Linked DNA regions of Homo sapiens. The protein of the gene in region 2 interacts with the protein of the main gene of each other region in a biochemical or structural test. Each region holds a gene or a part of one and is shown on either strand. Other genes may lie near its edges.

What was found.
Region 1: the proteins of MARCHF8 (region 2) and NLRP3 form a complex in vitro, tested with the Homo sapiens proteins (one study listed by BioGRID).
Region 3: the proteins of MARCHF8 (region 2) and CGAS form a complex in vitro, tested with the Homo sapiens proteins (one study listed by BioGRID).

Annotation. Positions count from the first base shown.
Region 1 is NC_000001.11:247,425,944-247,436,847, forward strand, and holds part of NLRP3 (NACHT, LRR and PYD domains-containing protein 3), read left to right. Parts: intron 1-3,641; coding exon 3,642-3,812; intron 3,813-8,159; coding exon 8,160-8,330; intron 8,331-10,026; coding exon 10,027-10,197; intron 10,198-10,904. UniProt on the Homo sapiens protein: Sensor component of the NLRP3 inflammasome, which mediates inflammasome activation in response to defects in membrane integrity, leading to secretion of inflammatory cytokines IL1B and IL18 and pyroptosis.
Region 2 is NC_000010.11:45,453,305-45,464,208, reverse strand, and holds the end of MARCHF8 (E3 ubiquitin-protein ligase MARCHF8), read left to right. Parts: intron 1-212; coding exon 213-1,058; intron 1,059-2,797; coding exon 2,798-2,978; intron 2,979-4,331; exon of another isoform or gene 4,332-4,469; intron 4,470-4,941; coding exon 4,942-5,089; intron 5,090-5,665; coding exon 5,666-5,970; 3' UTR 5,971-9,624; downstream 9,625-10,904. UniProt on the Homo sapiens protein: E3 ubiquitin-protein ligase that plays several important roles in innate immunity and adaptive immunity.
Region 3 is NC_000006.12:73,433,565-73,444,468, reverse strand, and holds part of CGAS (cyclic GMP-AMP synthase), read left to right. Parts: intron 1-4,023; coding exon 4,024-4,260; intron 4,261-10,904. UniProt on the Homo sapiens protein: Nucleotidyltransferase that catalyzes the formation of cyclic GMP-AMP (2',3'-cGAMP) from ATP and GTP and plays a key role in innate immunity.

The DNA.
Region 1 (10,904 bases), on a different chromosome or scaffold from region 2:
TGTGGGGCAGAACAATGCCAGAGAGTCTGTGTCCCAGGAGCGAGGGGACAGAGGGCCTCAGAGCTGGAGGCTGGGGGGATGTTTCTTAGAAATGTGCAATCTAAGCCTCCTTTAAGGAATGGTGGGACCTGGGCGCATAGAGAAGAAATTAAAGGAATTCTGCACTGAAGACTGGTATGAGCCAAATCATGAATGCAGTCTGAGAAAAAGTGTGTGCAGGTGACAGTGGAGAGAGACACAGTTTCCTTGGAAAAAAACATGATGAAGGTAAATCAAGGGAAATAGAGCAGAAATGTGGAGACCCTCTTTCTAGGCCCCCATGTTGCTCTGCACTGGGCATTGCCAAAACCCCGTTTTCGGGTCTGTTCACACACTTGCTGGGTGGTTGGAAGCTAGTGGCCAAGTCTGTGCAATGAAGTGGTTGAGTCACCTGACTTCTGAGTCCCTTTTGGGTTTATCGTTCAGTGCCTCCTGCAGAAGGACCACCCACAGTGGTTGTAGGAAGGTGGCCACCCTGTGATGTGTGAGTTTAGCCTGGATAGAAGACACTTGACGTGGGGCAAAATTAAGGGAAACAGGAGGCTTGGCCCTTCCACAGGCAACAATGAGTTTCAGCTTTCTTGATCCGTTGACATTACCATGACCAGGACCACCTTCCTAGTCATGGTTTGGCCATGAAGGACTGACTGCCCACAGGGCCGCAGTGGTGGTGAAGACCCAGGTCCTGGTCACAGGGACTTGAGGTCTGGCTGTGGGACAGTCCGGAAACAAGTGCAGATGTCGGGGAGGGGGTCATGGGCTCTGACAAGGAAACTTGCAGAGTATCCAAAGCACAAGGGGACGAACCTGTTCACCAGCGGGGCACGGGTGGGTGTCCCCGCTCAGCCAGCTTCCGGAGGATGGGCAGTGAGAGAGTGAGAGAAGGAAAGGGGCAGCCAGGCTGGGGGCTTACGGTGTTGAGAGAGAGGGCAGGTGTGGGAAAGCAGGGTACGGTTTCTACGGCAGCAAACAGTTCCGAGTGACTGGAAAAAAGACAGTTGTCTTCATTCATCAGGTTGCCATAACAAAACACTGCAGGCTGGTTGGCTTATAAGCAAAAGGAAGGTTCACCTTACGGTTCTGGAGGCTGGGAAGTCCATGATCCAGGCTCTGGCAGATCTGGTGTTTGGTGAGGGCCTGTTCCCTGGTCGATGGTGCCTTCTCACTGTGTCCTTACATGGTGAAGAGGCAAGGCAGCTCTCTGGGGTCCCTTTCCTAAGGACAGCAATCCCACTCCTGAGGGCTCCACCCTCATAACTTAACCACACCTCAAAGGCCCCATCGCCTGATACGTCATGTTGAGGGTTAGGATTTCAGCGTATGGATTTTGGGGCACACAAACATTCAGACCATAGAAATGGGAGAAGAAGAGTAAGACAGAGAGAAAAGTAGGCAGAACTACTCATTAAGAGTGAGGTGGAAGGTGGAGAGGGCAGGGAGACCTTATGAAGATCACACATCTGTGAGGAAGGTTTGCACACTCTCACTGAAGCCCCGGTAGGAGGCTCAGCACCCATTTCTCTAGATAGCACCTTCCTTCCTCTGAGGACAGATTCTGACTGGAGCCCTGGTAGGGGGCTCAGCACCCATCCCTCTAGATGGCACCTGCCTTACTCTGAGGACAGACTCTCACTGAAGCCCCGGTAGGAGGCTCAGCACCCATTTCTCTAGATAGCACCTTCCTTCCTCTGAGGACAGACTCTGATTGGAGCCCTGGCAGGGGGCTCAGCACCCATTTCTCTAGATAGCACCTTCCTTCCTCTGAGGACAGACTCTCACTGAAGCCCCGGTAGGAGGCTCAGCACCCATTTCTCTAGATAGCACCTTCCTTCCTCTGAGGACAGACTCTGATTGGAGCCCTGGCAGGGGGCTCAGCACCCATCCCTCTAGATGGCACCTGCCTTACTCTGAGGACAGACTCTCACTGAAGCCCCGGTAGGAGGCTCAGCAACCATTTCTCTAGATAGCACCTTCCTTCCTCTGAGGACAGACTCTGATTGGAGCCCTGGCAGGGGGCTCAGCACCCATTTCTCTAGATAGCACCTTCCTTCCTCTGAGGACAGACTCTCACTGAAGCCCCGGTAGGAGGCTCAGCACCCATTTCTCTAGATAGCACCTTCCTTCCTCAGGACAGACTCTGACTGGAACCCTGGTAGGGGGCTCAGCACCCATCCCTCTAGATGGCACCTGCCTTACTCTGAGGACAGACTCTGACGGGAGCCCTGGTAGGGGGCTCAGCACCCATCCCTCTAGATGGCACCTGCCTTACTCTGAGGACAGACTCTGACTGGAGCCCTGGTAGGGGGCTCAGCACCCATCTTTCTAGATGGCAGCTGCCTTACTCTGAGGGCAGGAGCTTGCTTTGTATGTTCCAGTCCCTTCTGAGAACCAGAAGCCTGAGCATCTATTAGAAATGCAGGATTGTGGACCCAATCTTAGACCTAGAGAGCTAGACTTTGCATTTGAATGAGAGCTACAGGTGATTCAAAGGTGACTGCATGTGTGGGTGCAGTGGCTCTTGCCTGTAATCCTAGGTTTTGGGAGGCCAAGATGGGGGGATTGCTTGAAGCCAGGAATTCAAGTCCTACCTGAGCAGCAAAGTGAGAGCACCTCTCTACAGAAAAACAAAAGCAAAAATGTGACTGCATGTTGGAGCCACCTGGCTTTTTTTAAATAAAAAAGATCCATATAGCTGGACACAGTGACTCGTGCCTGTAACCTCAGCTACTCGGGAGGCTGAGGCAAGAGGATTGCTTGAGCCCAGGAGTTTGAGGCTGCAGTGAGCTATGATCATGGCACTGCATTCCAGCTTGGGTTTCATCTGAAAAAAAATTTAAAAAATTCATCTAGTTCCACCTCAGAGCTTCTGATTTTATTTCCATGGATGTGGCCTGGGCTTGCGATTTTCTTTTTCTTTTTTTTTTTTTTGAGATGAAGTCTTGCTCTGTTGCCCAGGCTGGAGTGCTGTGGCATGATCTTGGCTCACTGCAACTTCCACCTCCCAGGTTCAAGTGATTCTCCTGCCTCAGCCTCCCTAATAGCTGGGATGACAGGCTCGTGCCACCACACCCAATTAATTTTTGTATTTTTAGTAGAGAGAGGGTTTCACCATGTTGGCCAGGCTGATCTTGAACTCCTGACCTCAGGTGATCTGCCCGCCTCGGCCTCCCAAAGTGCTGGGATTACAGGTGTGAGCCACCATGCCCAGCCTGGCCTGAGGATTTTTGTGAGCACTCCTGATGCTGTTGTGTAGCCAGGAGTGAGGACTGCCCTCTGATCACCCAGCACAGAACGTTCAGGGCCATGTTGGGACAGTGGACTGGTAAGGGCGAGAGGAGGACACTGGGGAGCAGGCTGTAGGGTGCCACAGTCCGCCACAGTCACAGGCTCATGCTCTCCGTCCGAGAGGAGGCAGAACTGCTTTTACCAAGGCTCATCCAGCCCTCTTCATTTCTCTGGGAACAATTTTTGGTTTCGTGACCCATTTCTTAATCCCCGGAAGGCATTTCTCTGAACTGGTGCCAGGCACCCCGGCCCCCAGCTCCAGTTAGTTATTATTCGAGGCTGATTTCTTTTCTGTCTGTCTTCCTTCTAATTCCTAGATTGGTGAACAGCCACCTCACTTCCAGTTTTTGCCGGGGCCTCTTTTCAGTTCTGAGCACCAGCCAGAGTCTAACTGAATTGGACCTCAGTGACAATTCTCTGGGGGACCCAGGGATGAGAGTGTTGTGTGAAACGCTCCAGCATCCTGGCTGTAACATTCGGAGATTGTGGTGAGTCCCCGTGCATGTGATCTGTGTGAGTGCAAGTTCATATGAGAGAGAGAGAGAGAAACAGACTGGAGAAAGATCTTCAGGACCAGGTTGCTGGTGTGGTTTCTTTCTTTTCTTTTTCTTTTTTTCTTTTTTTGAGGCAGAGTTTTGCTCTTATTGCCCAGGCTGGAGTGCAATGCCGTGACCTCGGCTCACTGCAATCTCTGCCTCCTGGGTTCAAGTGATTCTCCTGCCTCAGCCTCCTGAGTAGCTGGGATTACAGGCACCCACCACCATACCCAGCTAATTTTTTGTATTTTTAGTAGAGATGGGGTTTCATCATGTTGTCCAGGCTAGTCTCGAAGTCCTGACCTCAGGTGATCCGCCCGCCTCGGCCTCCCAAAATGCTGGGATTACAGGCATGAGCCACCGCACCCGGCCGGTGGTGTGGTTTCTGCTGTAACAAAGTGCCACAGACTGAATGGCTTCAACAACAAAAATTCATTTTCTTGCAGTTCTGAGGCCGAAAGTCTAAGATCAAGGTGTCAGCAGGGTTGGTTTCTTCTGAGGCCGCCCTCCTTGGTTTGTAGATGCCCCCTTCTCCCTGTGTACTGATGCCATCTTGCCTTGGGGGGAAGAGTGGCCTAGTCTCCTCTTCTTACAGGGACAGCAGTCCTGATGGATTAGGCACAGTCAGGCATGACTACACAAGACCTAATGTTAATCTAGTCACTCCTTTAAAGACCCCATTTCCCAAAACAGCCACATTATGAGGTCTTGAGGATTAGGGCTTCAACATGTAAATTTTTGGGGGGGCACAGTTCAGCCCAGAACAAGTGAGAAGGTAGAATGGGTTGGAGGCCAGCTGGGGAAGTTTTGTGTGGGGAAGAATGAATGAGGAACTAAAAAAAAAGTCATTTCTTGAAACAACCATGATGCTCGATATATTCCATTTCCTCATGGGCCATGTTCATAGATGAGAGTTGGAGAATTTGCCATTTACAACAATGGCAACCTCACCTAAAAACTATGAAAATACTTTTTTTTTTTTTCTTTGAGACAGGACCTCTCTCTGTCACCCAGGCTGGAGTGTGTGATCACAGCTTACTGCAGCCTCGACCTCCCAGGCTCAAGCAATCCTCCCACCTCAGCTCCCCCGAGTAGCTGGGACTACAGGCATGCACCACCATGCTGGCTAATTTTTGTATTTTTTTTGTAGAGATGTGGTCTCATCACGTTGCCCAGCCTGGTCAGAATGCTTTGTATGGGTTGAAATGTCACAGGGAATCTCCTGTGACTTTATTAATAATGTGCTTGCTCACACCTGTAGTCCCAGCTACTCGGGAGGCTGAGGCAGGAGAACTGTGTGTACCCGGGAGGCGGAGATGGCAGTGAGCCGAGATCGTGCCATTGCACTCCAGCCTGGGTGACAGAGCGAGATTCCATTTCAAAATAATAATAATAATAATAATAATAAAAAATGTGCTTGCTTTCTCCCACACCATGAATCAGATTCACACGCCCCACCGCGCTGGTGCCTGGGCCGCCTCACTAGCTCTGTTTCATTCCCTGCTCTGTGGACGCATGCAGGCGTCTGCATTTTTGAGGAGCTGCACAGCAAGTGTTAAAGTCCGCCACTCTAGGACATTTTGCTACCTCCCTCTCCGGCTCAACACACTCACCTTGTCACCAGTCTTATCAATTTTTCCTCCTACCCGAGCTGTTTTCCACTTTTCCTCGTCCTCACCCCACCAGCCCAGGTCCAGCAACTGTCACCACTTGCCTGGACACGCAGTGACCTCCTAGACCATCAGCTCCCCGGGGATGGGGTTTGCGTTTGTTTGTCTTGCTGTCATCTTTGCCACGCCTGGACAGACATCTTAGTACCCATCAGTGGTCAAAAGCACGCACTGAATGAATGTTGGCTCTTTGGTCTCCCTGTGTCTGCCTTTTTCCCTCACCCGACCATTCTCTGCACAAAAGTAAGATGGTCCTTTAGAAAATTCTGATTCGATTGTGCTGTTCGGTGGCTTAAATGCTTTCTGTCTGCTCTGCTCTTTATTTTTTACTTTATGTATTTATTTTTGTAGATGTAGGGGGCGCAAGAGCAGCTTTGTTTCATGGATATGTTACTGCACAGTGGTAGTGTCTGGGCTTTTACTGTAACTACCCCTTTTTTTTTGAGATGGACTCTCGCCGTGTTGCCCAGGCTGGAGTACAGTGGAGTGATCTCGGCTCACTGCAACATCCACCTCCTGGGTTCAAGCAATTCTTCGAGTAGTTGGGATTACAGGCATGGGCCACCACGCCCAGCTGATTTTTGTATTTTTAGTAGGGACAAGGTTTCACCGTATTGGCTAGGCTGGTCTCAAACTCCTGACCTCGTGATCCACCCGCCTCGGCCTCCCAAAGTGCTGGGATTACAGGCGTGAGCCACCGTGCCCGGCCTTAGTGTAACTCTTACCCAAATAGTGAACATTGTACCCAATAAATAATTTTCCAGCCCTCACCTGGCTCCCACCCTCCCACCCTTCTGAGGCTCTAGTGTCTATCATTCCATGCTCTATGGATGTTACCCTTTGTTTAGCTCCCACTTGTAAGTGAGAACGTGTGGTATTTGACTCTGTTTCTGAGTTGTTTCACTTAAGGTAATGGCCTCCAGTTCCATCTGTGTGGCTTCAAAGATGTGACTTCATTCTTTTCTATGGCTGAGCAGTATTCCATTATGTATATAGATCACACTCTTCATCTTTGCTCTTTTGGTAAATTTCAAATCGTAGTGCCATGGAGACTGGTTGTTTGGGACATTTAACCTTATTTCTCCAACTTCATGCCCAAATTCTCTCCCCACTGCCATTGCCCCTGTATGATTCTGGAGAGGCAGACACAAACAGGGAAGGGTAGGGGACAGTGAGATGCTTCGCAGAGAAGTAGAGATCCATTTGTCCATTTGCTTGAAGTTGGTGTAAGGATAGGGACAGAAAGGAAGGTGGTCTAACAGGCTCCAGGACCTATGAACTATTGCCCTGGAAAGAAGCTAGAATGTTGTTCTTGCCCCCATGACAGGGATAAAGTATAGTTTTTGTTGCTGGTGGTGGTGGTGACGGTGGTAGTGATGTGCGTGTGTGTTTGTGTGCATGTGTGTGACGGGGAAACTAATCAAGAATCAGAGCTGCAGCGGGATGTGGAATCCCAGCACTTTGAGAGGCTGAGGTGGGCAGATCACCTGAGCCCAGGAGTTCAAAACCAGCCTGAGCAAGCTGGTGAGACCTTGTCTTTAGAAGATAATAATAATAATAAAAATAAAATATAAATAAAATAAAATGGCTAAGCATGGTAGCACATGCCTGTATTTGCAGCCACTTGGGAGGCTGAGGCAGGTGGATCCCTTGAGCCCAGGAGTTCGAGGTGGCAGTGAGCTATGATCTCGCCAGTGCACTCCAGCCTGTGCAACAAAGTGAGACCCTGTCTTTAAAAAAAGAAAAGAAAAGAAAAGAAAAAGAATCAGAGCTGCTTTTCCTTTCAATATAGATGGAGGGCTGGGATGAAATCGTCAAACACAATGGGGTGACAATGTTGGTGAAGACAAGAAATAGCTGAGTGCAGCACTGGCGAGGGCAGTGCCGACTGCGGGCACGTCAATGGTTAGGAACACGAGGGAAGGAGGTGGGTGCACAGGCCCACACCGCCCGCTTCACTTACAAACCAGGAGCGCACCATTCACATGTCTGGGGGGTGATCTCAATGCACCCGGCACTGTTTACGGCCGGGAGTTCACTGACAGGTGATCCCTCTGCTGTGACTGGGGAGACTGGGGGCTGACCTCCCAATGTGCCTTGTGCTGTATTCCGGAGCTCTCTGGTCAGGTGTATTCTGATGCTTTCTCTATTCCAGAGCTCTCTGGTCAGGTGTGTCCTGATGCTTTCTCTATTCCAGAGCTCTCTGGTCAGGTGTGTCCTGATGCTTTCTCTATTCCGGAGCTCTCTGGTCAGGTGTGTCCTGATGCTTTCTCTATTCCGGAGCTCTCTGGTCAGGTGTGTCCTGATGCATTCTCTATTCCAGAGCTCTCTGGTCAGGTGTGTCCTGATGCTTTCTCTATTCCAGAGCTCTCTTGTCAGGTGTGTCCTGATGCTTTCTCTATTCTGGAGCTCTCTGGTCAGATGTGTTCTGATGCTTTCTCTATTCCGGAGCTCTCTGGTCAGGTGTGTTCTGATGCTTTCTGTATTCCGGAGCTCTCTGATCAGATGTGTTCTGATGCTTTCTCTATTCCGGAGCTTCCTGATCAGGTGTGTCCTGATGCTTCCTCTGTTCTGGAGCTCTCTGGTCAGGTGTGTTCTGATGCTTTCTGCCTCTGTTCTTGGCATGAAGGTTGGGGCGCTGTGGCCTCTCGCATGAGTGCTGCTTCGACATCTCCTTGGTCCTCAGCAGCAACCAGAAGCTGGTGGAGCTGGACCTGAGTGACAACGCCCTCGGTGACTTCGGAATCAGACTTCTGTGTGTGGGACTGAAGCACCTGTTGTGCAATCTGAAGAAGCTCTGGTGAGTCGAGCCCGTTCCCCTAAGGAAGTTCTGCCAGCGAGGCGTGCTGCGCACTCTGGCTTCAGTGAGGCCCGGTGGGCTGGGGTTTGAGTGAGAATGGCCTTGGCGGCTCGGGTGACTGCGTGTGCTTGTCTTGGGGTGTCTAGCATTGCGGTCAGTGAGTGTTTGTCGTGGGGAAAGCCACACACTCAACCCTGACAAGGAGCATAAATAATAACAAAAAGAAGATGTCTGCCTTTAGGGTGCCTACTGCCTAGCTGACAAAAAGAAAAAATCAGTGTAATGCATTGCTTTAGAGGAGTTTTAGAACTTCATGACAAGCCCTGGGTCCTCATATTGTATAAGAAAAATGGTGCTAAAGCAATGCAGACCCTCGATGTTGTATGCAGCCCTTCCCTGAGTGCTTCTGGGAGACTTGCATTTTGAAGGAGAGAAAAAACCACTTAAAAATGGAAGGGCCATTTCTCACCCATTAGGATGGCTATTATCAAACAAAAGCAAGAAAACTAGAAAACAACAAGTATTGGTGTGGGTGCGGAGAAATGGAAGCCATTGTGTGTTGCTGGTGGGAATGTAAATGATGCAGCCACTATGGAAAACAGCACAGCAATTCCTAAAAAATAAATACAGAATTACTACTGGAGCCAGCATTTCCACTGCTGGGTATATCTGCAAAAGAGTTCAAAGCAGGAACTCAGCCAGGAGCGGTGGCTCACACCTGTAATCCCAGCATTTTGGGAGGCTGAGGCAGGTGGATCACTGGAGGTCGGGAGTTCGAGACTAGCCTGGCCATCATAGTAAAACCTTGTCTCTACTAAAAATACAAAAATTAGCCAGGCATGGTGGTGCATGCCTGTAATCCCAGTTACTCGGGGTGGAGGCAAGAGAATCTTTTGAACCTGGGAGGCGGGGGTTGCAGTGAGTCAAGATCCCGTCACTGTACTCCCGCCTGGGTGACAGAGGAAGCATTAAAAAAAACAGAAGGCAGGAACTCAAACATGTTATTTGTACATCTATGTCCATAGCAACACTATTAGAAATAGCCAAAAGGTGGAAATAACCAAACGTCCTTCAACGGATGAAGGGTGTTGAAAAGTGCTATATATGTACATTCAGCTTTAAAAAGAATTCTAGTACACACTACAACATGGATGAGCCTCGGGGACATTATGCTAAGTAAGATAAGCTAGACTCGAAAGGGCAAATACTCTGATTGTCCTTATAGGAGGTGTCTAGAACAGACAGATTCATAGAGACAGGAAGAAACGTGGTTGCAGGCAATGGGAGGGCGGAGAGTGGGAAGACATTGTTTAATGGTTATGGAGTTTCAGTTCTGCAAGATGAAAGGAGTTCTGGAGATGGTGGTGGTGATGGTTGCACAACAATGTGAAGTGCTTAAGGCCATTAATTGTGCACTTAAAAATGGTTAAAATGGTAAATTTTATTTTACACGTATTTTACCACAATAAAGCTGAATGTAGGGAGCTGGGAAGATGTAGTATTGGTGGGAGCTTGGAGAATGCTTACTTGTTATTCCACCAAATGGAAAAGGAAATCAGAAGTGTACATAGAGCTTGTGTCCACTCCCTTTCCATGTGTAAACTGGAGTAGAGGCAGTGGCAGGTACGGGTGCTTCCTTGTCCATGGTGGAGCGTGGGTGAGAGACATGACTGACATTCTGCCATCTCTATGGAAGGTTGGTCAGCTGCTGCCTCACATCAGCATGTTGTCAGGATCTTGCATCAGTATTGAGCACCAGCCATTCCCTGACCAGACTCTATGTGGGGGAGAATGCCTTGGGAGACTCAGGAGTCGCAATTTTATGTGAAAAAGCCAAGAATCCACAGTGTAACCTGCAGAAACTGGGGTAAGTCTTCATGGGTGTCTTACCAGAAAAGTAACTTCTTTTCAGAGGTGAATTATTTGGAAAATGTGGATGGGGGTTACTTTGGTCAGGCAGAGCTGAAGGTAGAGTAAGGAGGTAAAAACATCAGAAATGCTTTGAAGGACTGGAGGCATATAATGTATACTGCTGCTAATAAGATAATTTATGCTAATTTATGATTATAGAACTAGAGTTTCTTAGTGTTGGAAGAAACCTTAGAGATGGTGCAGCCCAATTGCCTGTTGAGGGAAAAACTTGCTTCCAAGACACTCACATGAATAGTCACCCATTTTATGTGTGCATGCTTGCAAGCATGCAAGTTATCGCATAGTGCATGCAGCCTCTACACTAGGAAAGAGCTCTCACCCTGCAGCCTCTACACTAGGAGAGGACTCTTACACTGCAGCCTCTATATCCTCAACAGTGTCATGGCTCAGCACCTTCACCTATGTAGCCATGCTCTCCCAGGTACACAGGCTGGTTTGTTAGTGTCTGTCTTTGAAATGTGGTGCCCAGACCTGATGATGCATGGTGGATGTTTTACCTCCTGTTGCAGAGAACTATGGTTTCACTGGTGGAATCTCTGATTTCCTTGTTTTTTTTGGCAGTTACATAAGCCTTTTGATTCATGTTGGAATTCTGCAGTAAACAGTAGTAGGGAATACCCACTAATAATCATGCACTTTCCC
Region 2 (10,904 bases):
CAGTGTGCAGCCAGAAATAAGCATTAGTGTCTGTAGGTTCTTGAATTTCCATTTGCTTAATCAATCTGCCTTTGGTCTAAACAGTTGGCGAGTTTTATGTGTGGTTTGCTCACCAAGTTACCCATGCTAGTCTCATTTCTTCACTATGATGTCTATTCTCTTTTAAAATTGTTTTTACTTTCTGTGCTTTTATCCCACTGTTCTGCATGCAGTTCCAGTGCAGTGTTTTCTGAGTGTTGTCACCACAGTTCCGTGCAGTCTGCTGTTGTCTCGAAAGCTCCTCACTGCCAGAGTTCTCTGACACAAGGGCTCACTGTGACAGTTATCTGTAAGGACACATTACAGGCGTCAAAGAGAAATTCCTTTGGTTCAGAATGGGCCCAGGCCTTGAAGCCTGCTAAGAATACCAAAGCCAGAAGAACACTAAAGTTCTCAAGGTCCCTCAATGATGTGGGTGAGAAGGCGCAGGATACTTCAGAAAGTTTTGCCTATGTGGAAAGAACTTGTTCTGAAGGGAAATTAATACTCCCTCAAGATACGTGTCTCAGAACTAACAGGTTTCATCATAAAGAAAAAAGAACCCTGAACCACAAACCTCTTGGCAATTCCAAACATTCTTGTGTTTCATGCCTTTCTGCCGGTCGCTCAACTGCCTCAGAGGTGGAAGCTGGCAAGGGGGGCAGGCCCGGCCTGCTGCTGGAAGAGAAGGCGGATGGTGAGGCCACGTCCCGAAGCCGGCAACTGCTCCAGTACCTGTTCTCACTCTCGCACGGCTTGAGCGCCAGCAGCCTGCACAGGTTCCATGAGCTGGAGAGCTGCGCTGCTCGCCTGCACACTGCCAAGTCCTCCAGCGGGCTGGCAGGGAGTATGGGCTTCTGCTCTGACGAGATGGGAGACGACGATGTCTTTGAGGACAGCACATCTGCAAAACTGAAGAGTAGGGTTCTGCGGGCGCCCCTCTGCTCCACGGAAAAGGACAGCGACCTGGATTGTCCTTCTCCCTTCTCTGAAAAATTACCCCCCATATCTCCCGTGTCCACGTCAGGGGATGTCTGCAGGTTGGTTTGCCAGGAAGTGCCATTCTAGCCATCTCTGCTCGCATCAGGAACCTCCTCTTGCTTTAGTATGTGAAGTTTCAGGAAAATGAAGTAATAGGAAGTTGTAACCAGTTGTGGGTTGATGGTTTTCTCCAGAAGAATGGAGTATCAATATCGTTTGAAAAACTTAATTTTTATGATGTGAGTCCCAAGATAGTTTTACAAATGATAAAAGAGGAAGAAGCTGGCTGGGCGCAGTGGCTCACGCCTGTAATCCCAGCACTTTGGGAGGCTGAGGCGGGTGGATCACCTGAGGTCAGGAGTTTGAGACCAGCTTGGCCAACGTGGCGAAACCCCGTCTCTACTAAAAATACAAAAATTAGCCGGGCGTGGTGGCGGGCGCCTGTAATCCCAGCTACTCAGGAGGCTGAGGCAGGAGAATTGCTTGAACCCGGGAGGCGGAGGTTGCAGTGAGCCAAGATTGCGCCATTGCACTCCAGCCTGGGCAACAAGAGTGAAACTCTGTCTAAAAAAAAACAAAACAAAACAAAAAAAAAAAGAGGAAGAAGCTACACATATTAAAGGCCAAGCTGACTCTTCTAAACTAAAAATAAGTAGACTTTGCATAAAGAAACTGGAAGAAAGAAACTAGTATCTTCAGTTTTCCAGCCTGATGGTCCAGATTTTAAGCATTGTTGCATCTCCCAGCCTCTTTTTTAACCCTTGCTCCCTACCTACCCCCAAAAGGTGTGTGGGGACTGGCTGTTCTCCAGTAGCTCCTTCCTTCCTTCTTTTTAACTGAGGTGTAGCCACCTATGTCCCATCCTAACTCTGTTTCCCCCCTTTATCTTCCCTTGTGCAGCATCCTTGTCTGGCCTCCATAATTCACTTTTTGTCATGACTCTTGTGCCCTCCTCATTCTGACCTTTCTCCAGTCTCCGCTCCTTAGTGCCAGCTGTCATCATTTCTAACATTTGGATCAGAGATCCCCTCACTAAAACAGCCTGAGAGCCTGGCTCCTTCCAGGACGAGTGCCCCAACCTGTTCTCTAGCTGCTGGAAAAGACCCCTCTGTTTCTTAAAAGCCTGTTAAGTTCCTTCAGGCTAGTAGCTACACCTTGTTGCATACTTCCTTGGAAATAGAGAGTGCTTTCAAATTAATTTCTCACTTATTGCTATTAGTGGTCCCAAGAAAAAGAGATGAAATTGCAGCATCTTGTAATGGTGAGTTTTTTAGGTCTAGGAGAGAGGTACTGTCATCTTTGTTTACTTGCTGAGAGACGACAGAAATGTGTAGTTGTGGGGTATGAAGGTAAAGTCAGTGATTATAGCTAAAAAGCAAACGTCATTTAAGGTCACTGGTATTTTTGGATGTTGGAATGCAGGTTTTGTTTTACATAGAAATTTTCCCTCTAATTATTTTACCATCTTATGTTCTGGAAAATGATTCCATGTTGCTTTAAATTCATCTTTCAGTGAAGTTCTTATTTCTTACCAAAAAATGACAGCTTTGTCATTTCTTACATCGTTTTTTCCTTTCTGTTGCCAAATGCCCTCCAGACTTTCCATGTTGGTGCGGTAAGCTAGACATTTTTAGTTTGTAGTGATTGTTTTCGTTTGTGTTTGTATGTTTTTGTGCCCATAGTCACTTCTGTAATGTTCGTTTCTGAGTTTCCTTTGGGGGGATTAACCTGCCACTGAAGTGTCAGCTTCCCTGTCATGGGACTGTCCTTGGAATGACAGGTTTTCCTTCCACCATAGGATCTGCCACTGTGAAGGAGATGATGAGAGCCCCCTGATCACCCCCTGCCACTGCACAGGAAGCCTCCACTTCGTGCACCAGGCCTGCCTGCAGCAGTGGATCAAGAGCTCCGACACGCGCTGCTGCGAGCTCTGCAAGTATGAGTTCATCATGGAGACCAAGCTGAAGCCACTGAGAAAAGTACGTGGGAGGAAGGGATGCTTCACCCTTCCTGAAACCAGTGACCCCCAGAAAGCTGGTGTCTCAGATCATGAGGTCATGGCTTGCCTGCGTTCATTTCCTTAAAAAGCTGGGGCTGGTGCTTACATTTGCATTGTAGAGATTGTTGTTTCTGGTGCTGATTTTCAAGTCCCTCTTCTCAGGAAGAAGCTCTTTCTGACCATTCATAATCCTTCTTTTCCCTTCAAAGTAAGACTGCTTGCTTGTCGGTGTCAGTCCTCTGGCCTTTGACTACAGACTGTTTGTGACATATCTTAGCACCTAATTTTATACATATTAACTGTTGACGTCCTGCTTCTCTGATTAGGACTGTCTGTTGGAGATTAGTATCTCCCCAGCACCCAGCACAGTGTAGCATACAGTAAATTTATTTGTATACACCCATGATAACTATTTGCTGGATGGGAGTGTGAGTAGGTGGATAGGGAAAAGAAAGGAAGCACAAACGTTGCGTGATGTGCAACTGTCTTCAGAAAGGACCCACAGGCATTGCATGACACGCAGCTGTCTGGAGGCCCATGTCACTGCTCCCTCTGAGAGGAGCTTTGTCCGCCACACTGGCTTCCTGTTTAAATTTTGACTGTTTCATATATCTCTCTAGATGCCCAGCACAAAAGGTTTTGTCTGGAAGAATAAAAAACTGTTCCTATCTCAGAACATTAATATATAAATTGCAAGATAAGTCACATAATCAAATACTAGCCAATTAAATGCTAAATGGTGTGCTGGTAGAGCATAACAGTCATTCAGAAAAGGAAATGCTCATTATGAGCTAGAGTGCTGGGGAAGTGGAGCGATGGTAGCCTCATAGGGTGTTTGGGTTTTAGAGCAGTTCTTGAAGGATCACTAGGATTTGGAGGCAGAGTGCAAGGAGTTTAGAGAGGTCAGGCTGTCTGTGGAGTAAAGCATACCCTAGAAAGGTGAAGGTGAACATTGACAGGGTGTCAAGCTACGTGCGTTGTAGGAAGTAGCAGGGAGCATGGGGCACTGAGGCACTGACTCTGTATTATAGGTAGGAAGACCAGGGAACTTGCTAGTGTATAAAATCCCAGCAGAAAACAACCAGATTTAGAGAAGGCTTGTGCAAACTGCTTAAAAAAATGTTTTGCCCAGTAGAAACCTTGTAATTTATTGGGTGCCTACTCTATGCTAATCTCTCAACATGGGAAGTCCTTGAGGCTCTATTTTCAACTACCCTGCATAGACTCATCTGGAAAGAGGCTGTGACTAGGGTTGGCAAAGGATATGTGCAGAGTGTTTACACATTGTTCTTTCTCTCTACCTTTATGTGTTTTCTCCTGATTCGGAAACCAGTAAATGAAAAAGAAAGTCTGGCTATTTGGAGTAAATTAATGAGCTCCTAGAGGAGATGGGACTAGCAGAGTCTGCTTGTACCAGGAACTCTTAGCGTCGATTTCGAGCTGTTGCTGCCAAAGTAGCAAGGACCAAAGAGTGAGCGTCTTCTGCCATTCACCTTCACAATGTAGTGTGACCCATCTGCTAGTGTGTTGTGGCATCATCAACCCTCTTCTTCCGCTCGTCCATGCCAGTCAGCACATCAGGGAGACTTAAAACGTAGTACCTGGGTCCTGGGCCAACATACTGTTTTCATTAGGACTGAAATCATAGAATTCTTTATCAGGCCATCTTATGTCTGCTTGCAAGAATAAGCAGACAAGGGGATTTTTGATGGTAGTTCTGCATTCATCTTGATCCTGGCTTCTTTTCATTGCATAGAAAGTTGGCTGCACCTGGTACCTGGTTGAAGCCAAGTGGTTTTAGGAGAACAATACTTGGGGGAATGCATCTAGTTTGGGAAGGGAGAAGTGGGGTGGAAAGCCAATCTTACCTACCTACAATGCTCTCACCCCACCGGAGCCCTTCCCCAGAAGCCTGAGCCTCACACTCTGTGTTGTCTTTCTAGTGGGAGAAGTTGCAGATGACGTCCAGCGAGCGCAGGAAGATCATGTGCTCAGTGACATTCCACGTCATTGCCATCACATGTGTGGTCTGGTCCTTGTATGTGCTCATTGACCGTACTGCTGAGGAGATCAAGCAGGGGCAGGCAACAGGTGAGTTCTCAGGCTGGAGCAAGCTCAGCATGGGGGCCGGGATAGCTCACAGGAGTCCTGGGGTCAGAGGATTTTCCAGTTAGCCAAAAACGTCTGGGTTTCCGGAGGAGGGACATCAGTTAGGAGGCACTAGCCTCCTTTTTGGCATTTCTTTTGCTGTGGTGGTAGTTTTTGAAACCCAGTCAGGAGAGTTCATATTCTGGAGCATGAGAATCTCCGCAAACTACATCCTATAAAAGCAGGAAGTAGCTGGACACTGTCTTCCACTCTTCTTTGACTGAGCAACATTGGATGAGTTGTGAATCCATTGGTCAGTGGTGCAGGCTTGTGGTCCCCAGATACTTGAGGCTGAGGGATGGAGGATTGCTGAGGCTCAGGAGTTCAAGGCTGTAGTGTGCCATGATCACACCTGTGAATAGCCACTGCACTCCAGCCTGGGCAACATAGCAAGACTCCATCTCTTAAAAAACAACAACAACAACAAAGAATCAGTTGATTATGGGAAGTTCAGAAGTTGTGTTTTTCTTTACTTCATATCTTAAATAAAATCTAATAGGCTGAGTTTTTCCCTTCCAGGAATCCTAGAATGGCCCTTTTGGACTAAATTGGTGGTTGTGGCCATCGGCTTCACCGGAGGACTTCTTTTTATGTATGTTCAGTGTAAAGTGTATGTGCAATTGTGGAAGAGACTCAAGGCCTATAATAGAGTGATCTATGTTCAAAACTGTCCAGAAACAAGCAAAAAGAATATTTTTGAAAAATCTCCACTAACAGAGCCCAACTTTGAAAATAAACATGGATATGGAATCTGTCATTCCGACACAAACTCTTCTTGTTGCACAGAGCCTGAAGACACTGGAGCAGAAATCATTCACGTCTGATTGTGTGCGGGTTGTCATTTTCCTGGACATCCATGAAGAGCTGAAGGAAATTGTTTACTGCCAATTGTATACCTTTCTTATGTCCTTTAATAGCATAGACTGGACAGGTGACTATTTATAGTGGCTTCTCTTTTTCTAAACCCTCCTTAGTCTCCTAGAAAACCTTCCTGTGGGCCAGGCATGCCTGGGTCCTGCCTCTGCCTGGCAGCTCTGTGGGAAAGTGGAAGACCCCATGATGACATCATGGGGAGCCAGCAGAGTTCCTGCCCATGGTCTTGAGCTGAATGAGAGAATAAAATGCCAATCCCAAGGGAAGAGGAGGAGCAGGGGTGCCCAGGCCCTGATACCCAGCCGCCTCCAGCTTGCAGTGGTCCCCAGCCTGGAGCAGAGCATTGGGGAGTGTCTAGCCATGACGAGAAGATTCCCTCTGCATCACGGCGAACCCCAGGAGATGGTATTGAAACAGACCCCCAAACACAGACTCCTGCCTGCCCTCTGCCGATGCTGCCTCCTCCATGCTCTTGAGCAGGTGGAGCCATGGTGCTCTGTGGTGGCGCATGATTCACTGAGCAAACAGCACTTTACAGAAGAAAATCTTTATTTTGTAATATGTGTGTCCAGCGGGATTGACACTCAAAAAAAGTCTCACTTAGAAATCTTCCCTTCCTTACCTTTGTATCTCCTTTACATCATGAGAGATCAAAAATCCATTTTGCCTTACATATGCTAAGAAGCGTGGCATTCTTTCTGTTCATAAAACAGACTCATGACTTTTAAGACAGGACAAGCAGGCCAGAGGCTTTTTTTTTAATCACAGATCTCATGGGAATTAGTGGATGCTAAATGGCAATTAAAGCATGATTCCTATGCTTTTGAGCCTGTTTTATGACAAGGTGTTACTTTGTAGACCTGGCCCATACATTTCTTTTTTGTCAACACTGAAAAAGAACAGTTTCTGAGATCGAAATGGAAGGAAAGGAAGTGAGTAATGACAACAAAACTGAATATTTAAAAAATATTCCTTTATAGTTAAATCTCTCCAGTTGGTGTTGGCTTCACATTGAAAGAGCAGCCATGTGCCACCCTGGCCGGGGTGTGTGCACTGCATGCAGGTTCTCCCTTGCATGCAAGATGGGTGCTGGCCCACTGTGAGGCTTCTGCTCGGGGAAGTTCTGTGGAGTCACTACCAGGGCCAAGAGGCAGGTGGGCTGGCTCTGGGACGAGGGCCAGGTGTGAGCAAACTGCCAGGGTCCGCTGTGCCACTGCTCCCCGGCCACATGCCCGCCCAGCTGTCGCCTTAACCAGACTGAACAGACAGGATCCTTCAGGGCCCTTGGCCCCACTCTCAGTGCATTCTGTCATCAGGGATTACCACCTGTACCATTTTCATAAAACAAAACCAAAATCACTACCATCAAATGGCCTTGTCCCTCTAAAAAGTCTGCTTAAAATTCTGTTTTTAAAACCCAGTTTCCTAGTTTTCCAGGCAAATAGTTACCTCCGGGAAAGTTGCTGGGGGGGCCTGAAGCACAATGTAGCGCAGATGCTTCCTTTCCAGGCCATTCTCTCACCCAGCCTGCACGGAGGAGATGGGAGATGCTGGGGGTCCTGCCCTCAGTCTTTTTGGGCCTTAGGCGTTTCGTTCATCCTGCTAAGGGGATGAAGCAAACACGAGGTGATTCCTTTGCCTTTCAGAGTGGAAGCCCTGGAGTTTGTTTTGAAGGCCAGGAGGCTGAAGGATCTCTAAGCTACGGTGTGGGCTTAATAGCAGCAGGCTTTGTCCTCCTGTCTCCTCCAAGCCAGTGTCTGATTCCTTGGCAACACAGGTCTTAGTCTGTGGAGTGGCTCTGCTGTGGCCTTCCTCTGGCCGGGCAGGCACTGTCCAGCCATAGCCAGCTCCTGAGAATAGGTCAGCCTCTCCTTTCTGTCTCCCAGGGCACATCCAGCCCGTGCCTGTGTTCACTGTGCCCCGAAGTGCAATTACCCATACCCCTTCTCAGCCTGGGGACCCCAGGCAACCACAGACTGTCCACTCAGGGGAGCTGAATCCCAGGTCAGCCCTGCCAATGTCCCTTAGGAACTGCCCAGGCAAGGCCCCTGGTTTTGTATACTTGTTCCTGCCACCCAGCAGTAGATGAGTGTTTCAGGTGAAGACCAGGATAGATTTTCTAAGTGTGAATCCCCACTTCACATATGGAACCCCTTATGCTGAACTTGAAAAGCACCAAGACTTCCTGTAGACAAGAAAGTGCTTAGGTAGGGACAGCCCCTGGGCATCCCACCCAATGTAGCTGGCACCCCACTATGGCAAAGGTGCCTTGATAACTGAGCCCTGTATCCCTCCCATGCCCAGCCAGATTCTCATGGGAAGCCCTCTCCCTTCTTTTCTGCCTAACACCATCTCATCGTTTCTGGCCTCACTGTGGACAATCCACACACATTCTTCTTTCCTCTCCTGGCGGGGCACAGAGCCACCCCCTTGCCTTTTCTTTTCTTGAAGGTTCTAGTTCAGCTCCTGATTCATCAGACCCTTCTAGCCCCCTGCATCTAGCAGTGAAGCATGAAGCCTGGTGGGGATGTGGTACTCCCATCTGGTGTGGCCACCAGCTCTGCCAATGTTCCTGTAGCCTTGGAAAACTTGCTCTCTCGGTTCTTTTGGGTGCTGTGTACTCCCCAGCTTCCCCCCTTCCCCCCCCATTTTGCACCTGGGTTTAGTGAAAGGATGGCATTTGGTTGACCCATATAGAAACCCAGAATGAGGTCTCAGGGCCAGGAGGCCTGGTATTTGTAGGCCAGGGAAGGGGAAGAGGCAAGTGGTCTGGGGTATCACCAGCCAGCCCTCTCTGATTTGGCCTCTACTCCCCATAAGTCACAGTACCATAAGCAGGCTTCTGGCCTCAGCAATTTGGTCTTTGTGCCCAAGTTTATTGTGAGAATTTCCTGAAAACTCTATAAAAGGTCTCTTCCTACTGTAGGCCTCTAATGTTTCTCCCCTTTTTGCTTCAGTCCACTCTTCAGTCTTGTAGGCCTAGTTTTCAAACCTGCACATGTGTCCTACCTGGCCACAGGCATGCAGGCCTCAGGCAGCTGGGCCAGTTTGGGAGCCTCGGGTGATGTCTGCACGATCTGGGGCTGCCTCTGCACCCCTGCTGTGGGCTTCAGGGTTGGAGAAGGGCTGGGACCAACCGGGTGAGATCCACAAGTCTCTGGATGTGGCTGAAGGCAAATACACAATTGAAGTACTTTCTGTTTTGAAGTGCTTTCCCTTTTGAATCTGGTTTGAAACATGCAGCTTCTGTCTCTAGCCCAAGGAAAGACCAAAACATAGGGAAATAAAAGCATTTATCTTTGTCTTGGAAGTAATTGTTGAAGTTGTGCAGTTGATCAGTGCACAGTTAGATGCAATGTTTATAGAAATTGATTGTTAAACCAAATTTACACTGGCATGTGTGGTGTAGTTTCTAAAAGGCACTTCACATTTGAAATTTTTCTTACCTTAGAAAGTTTCTAGTGATCTAAATGTCTAGTTTTGTATTCTTTTGTGTGTGTTCACTGTTTCTCAGTATTACCACTTGAATAATTCTCTGTACAGGGGGGTTTGTGCTATACACTGGGATGTCTAATTGCAGCAATAAAGCCTTTCTTTAAAAAGGAGTTTTGCCATGAGAGTGTTTTGCTGCAGGGAGGCTGGGGACGTTGGCAGGCACTCCGGTTCCCTGACCTCCTTTCCAGGGTTGTCTGGCTTACACATCAGGAAATAGTATGCGGCTCCTGGAGGTGTCTGTTTTCCTCAGCCTCCCTCAGACACGTGTGTCGGGGGTGGGCTGGCAGTGTCTGGACGAGTGTGTGGGATGGGAGTGAAAACAGGCATTTCTCACAGGTGTGCTTGCTTCAAACATCCCGTTCCTACCTGAGCTCACCACCCTGAGAGAAGGCAGACTCGAGTCTGTCGCTGCATGACCATGGAGCACTAGATTATGATCCAGCCTTATCCATAGAAATTTGTCCTGACCCACAGCCCAGCTGAGAAAGCACCAGGGAGACCAGCAGGGTTGCCAGTGACAGCTCTGCCACGCTGCATCCCCTGGCTCTGGCAAGGCCTCTGAGGGAAGGCAGTGCCACGATCCTCAGACAGCAAACCGCCCACAGGTCTGGGAGTGCTGAGGCCTGGTTGCAGCTTCCCTACCACATGCATGGCAAGGGTCAGAGGTTGCAGGAGGTGAGGGGTGGGAAGCCAGGCTTGCCCAGATGTGCTGCTGTCTCAGAGGTGATCCACAGAATTGTTCCACTCTGGGCTGCCAGCTGACTTGGGAGCTAGGCACAAGGCTGCTTTGCAGAGCCATGGTCACAGCTGTCCCCAGGAGTGGAGGCCTGCAGCTCCAGGTGGGGGACAGGCCCGCAGAGCTGCTGAGCCTGTGTGGGAAGGTCTGTGCTTGCGGCCAAGAGGAGGTGGGGATGGCCCCTGAGCTCCGTGCTGAGGAGGGTGGAACCGGAAGAGGAACCTGCCCCTGTAAGAAGGTGAGGGAGGTGGCTCTCGGGGAGCCACTGTGCTTTTGGGGAATTTTAGGAGTTTTTCTGAAGACACACTCGACAGTGTCTGGGTGCAGGCAGGCTTGAGAGGATGGAACCAGCCACACTGATGGGGTACTGGCTGCCTGTAGCTCGCTGCCACCAGGGACTCCCCACAGTCTCTGTCGGGGTAGCAAACTGCTCAAAAGCAGCTGTTTTTGTCAATAAACTATTAGCAAACAGCAGTGCACATTCACTTAATATTATCTACGGTTGATTCACAGCTACAGTGGGCAAAGTTGAATTGTTGGGACAGATAGTATGGCCTACAAAGCCTACAGTATTCACTGTGTGCCCCTTTATAGGAAAAGCTTGCCAACTCTGTCAGTGTGAAGGGTGTCCCTAGAGTTGTTGCTGCACAGCCT
Region 3 (10,904 bases), on a different chromosome or scaffold from region 2:
GGTGTGGTGGCACATGTCTGTAATCCCAGCTACTTGGGAGGCTGAGGCAGGAGAATTGCTTCAACCTGGGAGGCAGAGGTTGCAGTAAGCCGAGATCGGGGCATTGCACTCCAGCCTGAGTGACAAGAGCGAAACTCCATCTCAAAATAAAATAAAATTAAATTAAATTAAATTAAAATCTGGCCAGGCGCAGTGGCTCACACCTGTAATCCCAGCACTTTGGGAAGCTGAGGTAGGTATATCACGAGGTCAGGAGTTCAAGACCAGCCTGGCTAAGATGGTGAAACCCCATCTATACTAAAAATACAAAAATTAGCCAGGCGTGGTGGTGGATGCCTGTAATCCCAGCTACTCGGGAGGCTGAGGCAGGAGAATCGCTTGAACCCGAGAGGTGGAGGTTGCAGTGAGCCGAGATCGTGCCACTGCACTCCAGCCTGGGCGACAGAGCAAGACTCCGTCTCAAAAATAAAATGAAATCTAAAGTCCTTTTCAGGGTCTACAAGTCAGTACAGAATCTGGTCCCTGGCTGCCTCTTCAGCTTCATTTCATATAACTTCATCTTTTCCGAAAGAGTCTCTTTTTGTTCCTAGATCTTTCCAAGCTCTTTTTTTCTGCCTCAGGGCTTGGCTCCACCACCCCATTCCACCCTAATTGCTATCACTTTTCCCAGTTTATTCCCTTCAGAGCACTCACTGCAATTTGTGTTGTATGTTATTACGCTATTAGATTAAGAGCTTTATCTTGCAAGCACAGACGTACAATTAATAACAAATGGAAAAAATGATTATCTTGTATACTGGAAAGTAGTAAGTGCTGTTGTGAAGAAGTATAGCAAAGTGAGAGGGATCAGGAATGTGGGAGATGGAGGTGGGGGGGAAGTTGCAATGTTAAGTAGAGTGGTAAGAAGAGAATTCCATTAGAGTTTGGGAAGAGCCAGGCGCCGTGGCTCACGCCTGTAATCCCAACACTTTGGGAGGCCGAGGCGGGTGGATCACGAGGTCAGGAGTTCAAGACCAGCCTGGCCAAGATGGTGAAACCCCGTCTTGACTAAAAATACAAAAAACTAGCCGGGCGTGGTGGCGGGTGCCTGTAATCCCAGCTACTTGGGAGGCTGAGGCAGAGAATTTCTTGAACCCAGAAGGCGGAGGTTGCAGTGAGCTGAGACCGCGCCACTGAACTCCAGCCTGGGCGACAGAGTGAGACCCTGTCTCAGAAAAAAAAAAAAAAAAAAAAGAGTTTGGGAAGAAGAGAATGAACAAAAGGAGACTATGAGTGTTTTGTAGAAGGAGCGGTCAGTGTTTGGAATGCTACTGACATCCAGAAATCCAATGGATTTGTTCTTTGGTCTTGTGGGGTTGACAAGAGAAATGTCAGTGGGGTGATGGACACAGAGTGAAAAGGCAGGGTTGCAGTGGAGATAACATGTGTAGGCCACTCTAGAAAGTTCTGTCTGGGCTAACTGTGGTGTCTCAGCACTTTGGGAGGCCAAGGCAGAAGGATTGCTTGAGCCCAGGAGTTCAAGACCAGCCTGGGCAACAAAGTGAGAGTCCATCTCTACAAAAAAAAATTTTAGGCCAGGTATGGTGGCTCATGCCTGTAATCCCAGCACTTTGGGAGGCCAAGGTGGGCGGATCACAAGGTCAGGAGTTCAAGACCAGCCTGGCCAAGATGATGAAACCCCGTCTGTACTAAAAATACAAAAATTAGCCAGGCGTGGTGGCAGACACCTATAATCATAGCTACTCAGGAAGTTGAGGCAAAAGAATTGCTTGAGCCTGGGAGACAGAGGTTGCAGTGAGCTGAGATTGCGCCACTGCACTCCAGCCTGAGCGACAGAGCAAGACTGTCTCAGAAAAAAAAAAAAAAAAAAAGAAAGAAAAAAGAAAAAAACATTTTTTTAATTAGCCAGGAGTGGTGGCATGTGCCTGTGGTCCCAGCTACATACGATGCTGAGGCAAGAGGATTGCTTGAACCTAGGAGGTTGAGGCTGCAGTGAGCCATGTTCACGCTACTGCACTCCAGCCTGGGTGACAGAACGGGACCCTGTCTCAAAAAAAAAAAAAAGTTTGGGCTGGAAGGAAGCAGAAAGATGGGTGAGTATGGAGAGGAGGAAGATGTGGGGTGAAAGGAGAGGTATACCCTATAACCCTTTGTATGAATTTCAGAATAATCTAGCAGGGAGGGAGAGATGGCTGATGTAGGAGAGGAAATACTTGAAGAGCATGGTACTTGAGAAGTTGAGAAGGAAGGGATCCAGAGACTATGGGCAGAGGTGGCCTTTGAAAGGTAGATGGAGGGCCAGGCACAGTGGCTCACACTTGTAACCCTAGCACTTTGGGAGGCCAAGGTAGGCAGATCATTTGAGCTCAAGAGTTCAAGACCAGCCTGGCCAACATGGTGAAACCCTGTCTCTACTAAAAATACAAAAATTAGCCAGGTGTGGTGGTGCATGCCTGTAATCCCAGCGACTCAGGAGGTTGAGGCAGGAGAATCACTTGAAGCTGGGAGGTGGAGTTTGCAGTGAGCTGATATCACACCACTGCACTGCATCCAGCCTGGGCTACAGAGCAAGACTTTGTCTCAAAAAAAAGTAAGGTAGATGGACACTTACTTCCTCAGTGGTAACAGGAGAGGTGGCCAGGTTTGGGTAACAGGTGGCCAGGTTTGCAGATTTTTCTAGCATTTTCTCCTTTGTGCTCTACTTCGTCACTGTGGAAGTCTTATCTGACAGTAGTAGTCTTTACTGCTTATAAACCCCCAACTCCCAAAGCCATCTAAATTTCTGACCATAGCCACCCACCCAGCAGCCATCTCCACTTGAGTGTCCCACAGGTATCTAGAGCTCATTGTATCTCATGAAGTTCAGCTTGGCCCAATCTTTCTTCTTCCTGCTTATTCTATTTTGAGGAATGGAACCAACATCAGCCATTAGGCCTAGGAAGGCCAAGATCCTGGGATGGCATCCCAAGGCTCCTACTTTCCTCCTCACATCGTAGCCTCAACTCATGACCACTTATGTTGATTTGGACTTCTTTAGTTGCTCTCACTTCTTCCCCGTGTCTTGATGCTCACTACCTCTGTGCTGCCGTGGCACCCAGCCTCTGTGCCAGGCTGTTGCTGTGGTCTTTTTGCTGCCTGTCTCTTCCCTCTTGCCCATCTGGCCTCTCCTCTAGGCTTCCCTCCATTCTGCCATCTATAATTTGTAATGAAAATTTAACCAGGCACAGTGGCACATGCCTGTAATCCCAGCTACTCAGGAAGCTGAGGCAGGAGGATCAATTGAACCCGGGAGGCAGAAGTTGCAGTGAGCCGAGATCGTGCCACTGCACTCCAGCCTGGGCAACAAGACAATAAGAGTGAAACTCTGTCTCAAAAAAAAAAAAAAAGAAAAAGAAAAAGAAAAAAGAAAAGAAAAGAAAAGAAGAAAATTTAATCACAGCACTCTTAAACCTCAAAGTCTACAGAGACCCCTTCATCATATATGCCCCACACCATCTTGACAATGCCTCCCAATGGGAGATATCAGTAATTATTGTGTTTTTTGTTTTTTGTTTTTTTTTCTTTTTTGAGACAGAGTCTTAATCTGTCGCCCAGGCTGGAGTGCAGTCATGTGATCTCGGCTCACTGCAACCTCCGCCTCCTGGGTTCAAGTGATTCTCATGCCTCAGCCTCCCGAGTAGCTGGGATTACAGGCATTCGCCACCATGCCCGGCTAATTTTTGTATTTTTAGTAGAGATGGGGTTCCACCATGTTGGCCAGGCTGGTCTCGAACTCCTGACCTCAAGTGATCCACCTGTCTCGGCCTCCCAAAGTGCTGCGATTACAGGCATGAGCCATCATGCCCAGCCAATATTGGTTTAGTAAAATACTTTGCCTTTTAGAGCCAGTTTCTGTTTTACCACTAATGTTTACTTCATACTTAGCACACCAGAGATCTTCAATTATAGTTACATTATTTCCCCTGTATTTCCAGAGAAAATTGGATTAATAAATACTTTCTTTTCTTTTATATGTTCAACCAGATACAGATGTCATCATGAAGAGGAAAAGAGGAGGGAGCCCTGCTGTAACACTTCTTATTAGTGAAAAAATATCTGTGGATATAACCCTGGCTTTGGAATCAAAAAGTAGCTGGCCTGCTAGCACCCAAGAAGGCCTGCGCATTCAAAACTGGCTTTCAGCAAAAGTTAGGAAGCAACTACGACTAAAGCCATTTTACCTTGTACCCAAGCATGCAAAGGAAGGAAATGGTTTCCAAGGTATTTTAAATATTAAAGTTAACTTAAAGAAGTAAAAGAGTTGTTAATGTTATATGTTCAGGCAGTAAAAGATCAACAGCCAACCAATGCTGTTGTCATTTCAAGAGCCATCAGGCAAAATAGGTTATAAGATGGGAGTCTGGTGACAGACAGAATTGAAAAGGGCAAAGTTGTAGTATTAATATCAAATACTCAGCTTTAAAATGTCTAGCAATCCATATTTGAATTTTATTTTATTTTTTTCGGTAAAGAAAAGCAGTATTGGCCTTGGAGTCAGACTGCCCTGGTTCTGAATCCTGAGGCTCCTTCTACTAGTTGTGTGAATTCGAGCTAGTTATGATGCTTTCTAAACCCATTTGCTCATCCGTACACTGTGTTAACCAAAAGTACTTGAAAAATTCTGGAAAGATAAAATGTGCATGCAGTTCTGTGGCCAATTCTGTTCATGCCAGTTATACGTTATTACATATTAATATTATCATTAGAGTCTAGACTCTCATTCTCAGCCCTGGTTCTCTCTTTCCTTCATCTTCCCATTCCACTGCTCCTATGCAGCGTGTCTCAGCCTCACAGATCAGGACGGGTTTTCAGGCTGTGCTCTTGGGTAAAATTCAACTTCCAAGAAACAGACTGAGTTGGTCTACAGCTAAAACTTTATAATGGTGATATTTTTGAAGGTAGAAGGAAGTAACTTTTTTTTTTCTTTCTTTCTTTTTTTTTTTTTCCTGAGACAGAGTTTTGCTCTTGTTGCCCAGGCTGAAGTGCAGTGGCACAATCTCAGCTTGCTGCAACCTCTGCCTCCCGGGTTAAAGCGATTCTCCTGCCCCATCCTCCCGAGTAGCTGGGACTACAGGTGCCCGCTACCATGCCTGGCTAATTTTTTGTATTTTTAGTAGAGACGGGGTTTCACCATGTTGGCCAGGCTGGTCTCAAACTCCTGGGAAGTAGCTTTTTTCCTTGTGATTTAGTCTAAAAAAAAAAAGAAAGTAGCTGATTATTTTCATTTTCTCCCATAGATTTATATAGGACTTTTGGCACCTACTACTATTGGATTCCAGGGAAATTGAAGGAGACCATAAAACAAATGAACCAAGTTATAAATGAGTATTGCTGAAAAAAGCCCAGAAATAGTCAATCATGCTTAGTTTGATGGTTTGTGTTTTTGTGGACACACATCATAACTTCATATATTGCATACATAGAGGAATCATTTTCTGTAAGAAAAATAGTCTATGAAGGGTACTTACATATATCATTATTCATGTTTTTACAAAATGAATTATAGCTTTCTGCAAAGAGGTTGTTCTGCAAACTGAACAATTTTTAGAATAGCTGCCCCAGGAAACCCTCACTGTAAGTGATACAAAAATTGCAACAGGACCCCATACCATCTCTTGCTGACCCCATACTGTCCTGAGGAACACTGGAAGGTAAATCACCTTAGAGATGAAGAAGAGTCCTTTGGTGGCCCTGTGGCCTATGTGGTTAGGCAGTTCTTTTTTTTTTTTTTTTTTGAGACGGATTCTTGCTTTGTTGCCCAGGCTGGAGTGCAGTGGTGTGAACTTGGCTCACTGCAACCTCTGCCTCCTGGCTCAAGCGATTCTCCTGCCTCAGCCTCATGAGTAGCTGGGACTACAGGCGCATGCCACCACGCGAGGCTAATTTTTGTATTTTTAGTAGAGACAGGGTTTCATTATGTTGGCCAGGATGGTCTCCATCTCTTGACCTCGTGATCCACCCGCCTCAGCCTCCCAAAGTGCTGGGATTACAGGCGTGAGCCACTGCATCTAGCCATGGTTAGGGAGTTCTTTTCATTCTTCCATTAAAATGAAAGAAAGTGAAGGCTGGTGCTGGATGCTTAGCTTCACCTCTGCTTTCTGTTACCCTTGGCTGTTCTGCATCTGCCATCATTCCAGATTATGTATAATTAGACAAAACTCTGCTTCTGTGTATGTGTGTGAGTGTATGTGAACAGAGGGACTTAACAGTGAAAATACTTGTACTAGATTGGAGACACTTATAACACCTGCTATATCTTTTCTTTCTCTAAACATTCTACTAGAAATTCCCTGGTCTCACAAGCTATATTTTTAAAAATATTATGTTTTTGTTTTTATTTATTTTTATTTGTTTATTTTTTGAGACAGAGTCTCGCTGTGTCGCCCAGGCTGGAGTGCAGTGGTGCAATCTTGGCTCACTGCAACCTCCACCTCCTGGGTTCAAAAGATTCTCCCACTTCAGCATCTCGAGTAGCTGGGACTACAGGTGCGTGCCACCATGCCCAGCTAATTTTTTGTATTTTTAGTAGAGACTGGGTTTCACCATATTGGCCAGGCTGATCTCGAACTCCCAACTTCAGGTGATCCACCCATCTCCATCTCCCAAAGATTACAGGCATGAGCCACTGTGCCTGGCCTTGTTTTTATTGATTTTTGATTAAAAATTTTAAATTTTAAAAATTTACCTGTTGCAAAATAATACTAGTTTTATTACCAAGGATATAATTTATTTAAAGAACAGTTTATGATTTACTTGCAGTTTTTTTGTTCTTAAGATAAAAGGACAGTCAAAATATGAGGTTTTTAACCCACTCAAAAAAATGTTCAGCCAGGCGCAGTGGCCCATGCCTATAGTCTCAGCTACTCAGGAAGTTGAGGCGGGAGGATTGCTTGAGCCCAGGGGTTCAGGGCTGTAGTGAGCTATGATCATGCCACTGCACTCCATCCTGGGTAACATAGCAAGAAGTCCTCTATACCCCGCCTGCCAAAAAAAAAGTCTCTGGACAGTTTAACTCAACATAGGTAAATTAACTTGTTTCATTATGTTATCTGTTTTTAGATACTGGTTTTTAAATTTTGATTTAATTCGTTTCATAAATTTATAAAGCATATACGTGGTTCCAAAGTCAAAGCTATGGAAAAAGGTACAGTTAGAGAAACATCTTCTGTTCATGTCCTCTCCACACTCTTCTCTCCTTCCCTGATTAGAAACCTTTTTAATTGTTTTTAGTTTACCCTTCCATGTTTTATTTTTTATTTTATTTATTTATTTATTTTTGAGACAGAGTCTCGCTCTGTTGCCCAGGCTGGAGCGCAGTGGGGCAATCTTGGCTCACTGCAGCCTTCGCCTCCCAGGTTCAAGTGATTCTCCTGCCTCAGCCTCCAGGAGTAGATGGGATTACAGGTGTGTGCCACCACGCCTGGCTAATTTTTGTGTTTTTAGTAGAGATGAGGTTTCACCACGCTGGCCAGGCTGCTCTTGAACTCCCAACCTCAGGTGGTCCACCCACCTTGGCCTCCCAAAGTACTGGGATTACAGGCGTGAGCCACCGTGCCTGGCCTTCCGTGTTTTAAAAGTGTAAGTAAATATATTCTCTCTCTCTCTCTCTCATTCATGTAATGGCTCAAACCTATAATCCAGTACTTTGGGAGGCTGAAGTGGGTGGATCATTTGAGCTCAGGAGTTCGAGACCAGCGTGGGCAACATGGTGAAAGCCTGTCTCTACTAAAAATACAAAAATTAGCCAGGTGTGGTGGTGCAAGCCTGTAGTCCCAACTATTCAAGAGGCTGATGTCAGGGGATCACTTGAGCCCTGGAGGTTGAGGCTGCAGTGAGCCAAGATGGTGCCACTGCACTCTAGCCTGGGTAACAGAGTGAGACCCTGTCTCAAAAACAAAGAAAAAGGTGTCCCTTTTATTTTAAAAAGGGGATGGCATATAAATGTGTATATAGTATATAATATAAATTATATACAATGTTTTATATTATATGACATATTACATATAAATTATACATAATATATTACATGTAAATACTTATGTAAATATATTCATATAAATACTTATATTTAATATATATTTTTAAGATAAAGAAGTCAGGTAAAAACTAAGGAAATCTGGATAAAGTATAGACTTTAGTTAACAATAATGTATCAATATTGGTTTATTGTACCAATGTATTTTATGAATATGGGATGTTAATAATAGGGAAATGGGGGTGCAGTGGCATGTGCTTATAGTCCTAGTTTCCTCAGCCTTCGGGAGGCTGAGGCAGGAGGATCATTGAGCCCAGGAGTTAGGGTTGTTCTTCTTGGAGCTGAACTCCTGGGTTCAAGTGATCCTCCCGTCTCAGTCTCCCACCTCCCAAGTAGCTGAGATTACAGGTGCACGACACTGTAATCAGTGGACATGTTTTCAAGTGGGTTTAAAACTTGGTATTTTGACTGTCCTTTTATCTTAAGGACAAAAAACTGCAAAAAAATTATAAGCTGTTTTTTATAAGTGTATTATTGGTAATAATACTGGTATTACTTTGAAAAAGGTAGATTGAACATAAATATTAGATAATATAGTAATTTATATACATACAAAATATATTTGTATGCTACCCCCTTTTTAAATAAAAGGTACACTTTTTTTTTTTTTTTTTTTAAAGTAGACACAGGGTCTTGCTATGTTGCCCAGGCTGGTCTCAAACTCCTGGCCTAAAGCAGTCCTCCCACTTTGGCCTCCTAAAGTGCTGGGATTATAGGCATGAGCCATCATGGCCAGGACATATGTTTTTCTTTTTAATTTTATTAATTTGGTTTATTTTTTAATTTTATAGACGCCCTGCTCTCAGATATAACACTTTTTTTCTTTTAATTTAACAAGATATTTTCGATCTCACTCCATACCTCTATATAGAGAAAACACCCATTCCTTTTTAAAGTCTATTTTTACAGCTGGTCAAAGAGTAAATCGTTATGTAATATTGCTAGGCATTTCCCAGATCTCCATAGGCATCATTCCAATTTGCTTTTCCACAGCAATGTATCAGAGTACCTGTTTCACTCTCAACCTCACTGACTTGTTAAACTTTTTGCCAATTGAAATTCTTGCCAGTGAGAAAATGATATCTCAAAAAGTAAGAAATGATATCTCAGTGTAGTTTATTTAAAAATAAACTTTTTGTTTTAGCATAGTTTTGTATTTACAGAAAAATTGTGAAGATAGTACAGAGAGTTCCCGTATAACCCCATACCCATTCCCCTGGGGTTTTTTCTGGGGGAGGTAGTGGGGCAGAGTTTCACTATGTTGCCCATGCTGGTCTTGAACTGAGCTCAATGATCCTCCCACCTCACCTTATCAAGTAACTGGGACTACAGACACGTGCCACTGCAGCACCCCCATTTTCCTATTATTAATATCTCACATTAATACAATACATTTAATAATTAATAAACCAATATTGATATATTATTGTTAGCTAAGGGCTATATCTGCTGGGCACAGTGGGTCTTGCCTGTAATCCCAGCACTTTGGGAGGCCGAGGTGGGCAGATCACCTGAAATCAAGAGTTCGAAACCACCCTGGCCAACATGGCAAAACCCCGTCTCTACTAAAAAAATACAAAAATTAGCCAGGCGTGGTGGCATGTGACTTAGTCCCAGCTACTCAGGAGGCCGAGACAGGAGAATCACTTGAACTTGGTGGGTGGAGTTGCAGTGAGCCAAGATCATGCCACTGCACTCCAGTCTAGGAGACACAGCGAGACTCCATTAAAAAAAAAAATTATATACTTTATCCAGATTTCCTTAGTTTTTCTTAATGTCCTTTTACTGTTCCAAGATCCCATTTAGGATACCATATTGCATTTAGTTGTCATGTCTCCTTAAGCTACTCTTGACTGTGACAGTTTTTTGGTTTTAACAGTTTTGAGGAGTACTAGTTAGGTATTTTGTAGAATGTCCTTTACTTGAGATTTCTTTATTATGTTTCTTATGATTAGATCAGAGTTATTGGTTTGGGGGAGGAAGGTCACAGAGGCAAAGTGCCATCCTTATCAAATTTTATCAACGGTACGTGCCACCTTTCTTTACAGTCATGTACAGTTGACCCTCAGGATTGGCTCCAGGGTACCCTGCAGACACCGAAGTCCACAGATGCTCAAATCCCTTACATAAAATGATATAATACAGTTGGCCCTCCATATCTGTGGGTTTCAATTCACGATTGGTTGAATTCTCAGATGTGAAACCCTCAGATACAGAGGGCCAACCGTATTGTGTAGCTATCCCTGAACTCTTTATTCTGTCCCATTAAAATCTTTGTCTATCTTTGTACCATGTTGTTGTACATAATGTAGCTTTATAATTAGTCTCAATATCTTTTAGGGCAAGTTCTACCACTTCGTTTTTCTCCAAGGGTGTCTGAGAGAGTCTTGACCCTTTACATTCTCATATAAATTTTGAAATCAGCTTTTCAGATTCCACAAAATACTTTTTGGAATTTTGATTGAGATAATGTTGAATCTATAGATAAATTTGGGGCCAGGAATGATGACTTATGCCTGTAATTCCAGCACTTCAGAAGGCTGAGGAAGGAGAGTTGCTTTAGGTGAGGGGTTCAAGACCATCTTGGACAACACTGTGTAAAAACTCTAGCCAGGCGTGGTGGCTCACGCCTGTAATCCCAGCACTTTGGAAGGCCAAGGTGAGTGGATTACGAGGTCAAGAGATCGAGACCATCCTGGCCAACATGGTAAGACCCCATTTCTACTAAAAATACAAAAATTAGCTGGGCATGGTGGCACGTGCCTGTAGTCCTAGCTACTCGGGAGGCTGAGGCAGGAGAATCGCTTGAACCCAGGAGGCAGAGGTTGCA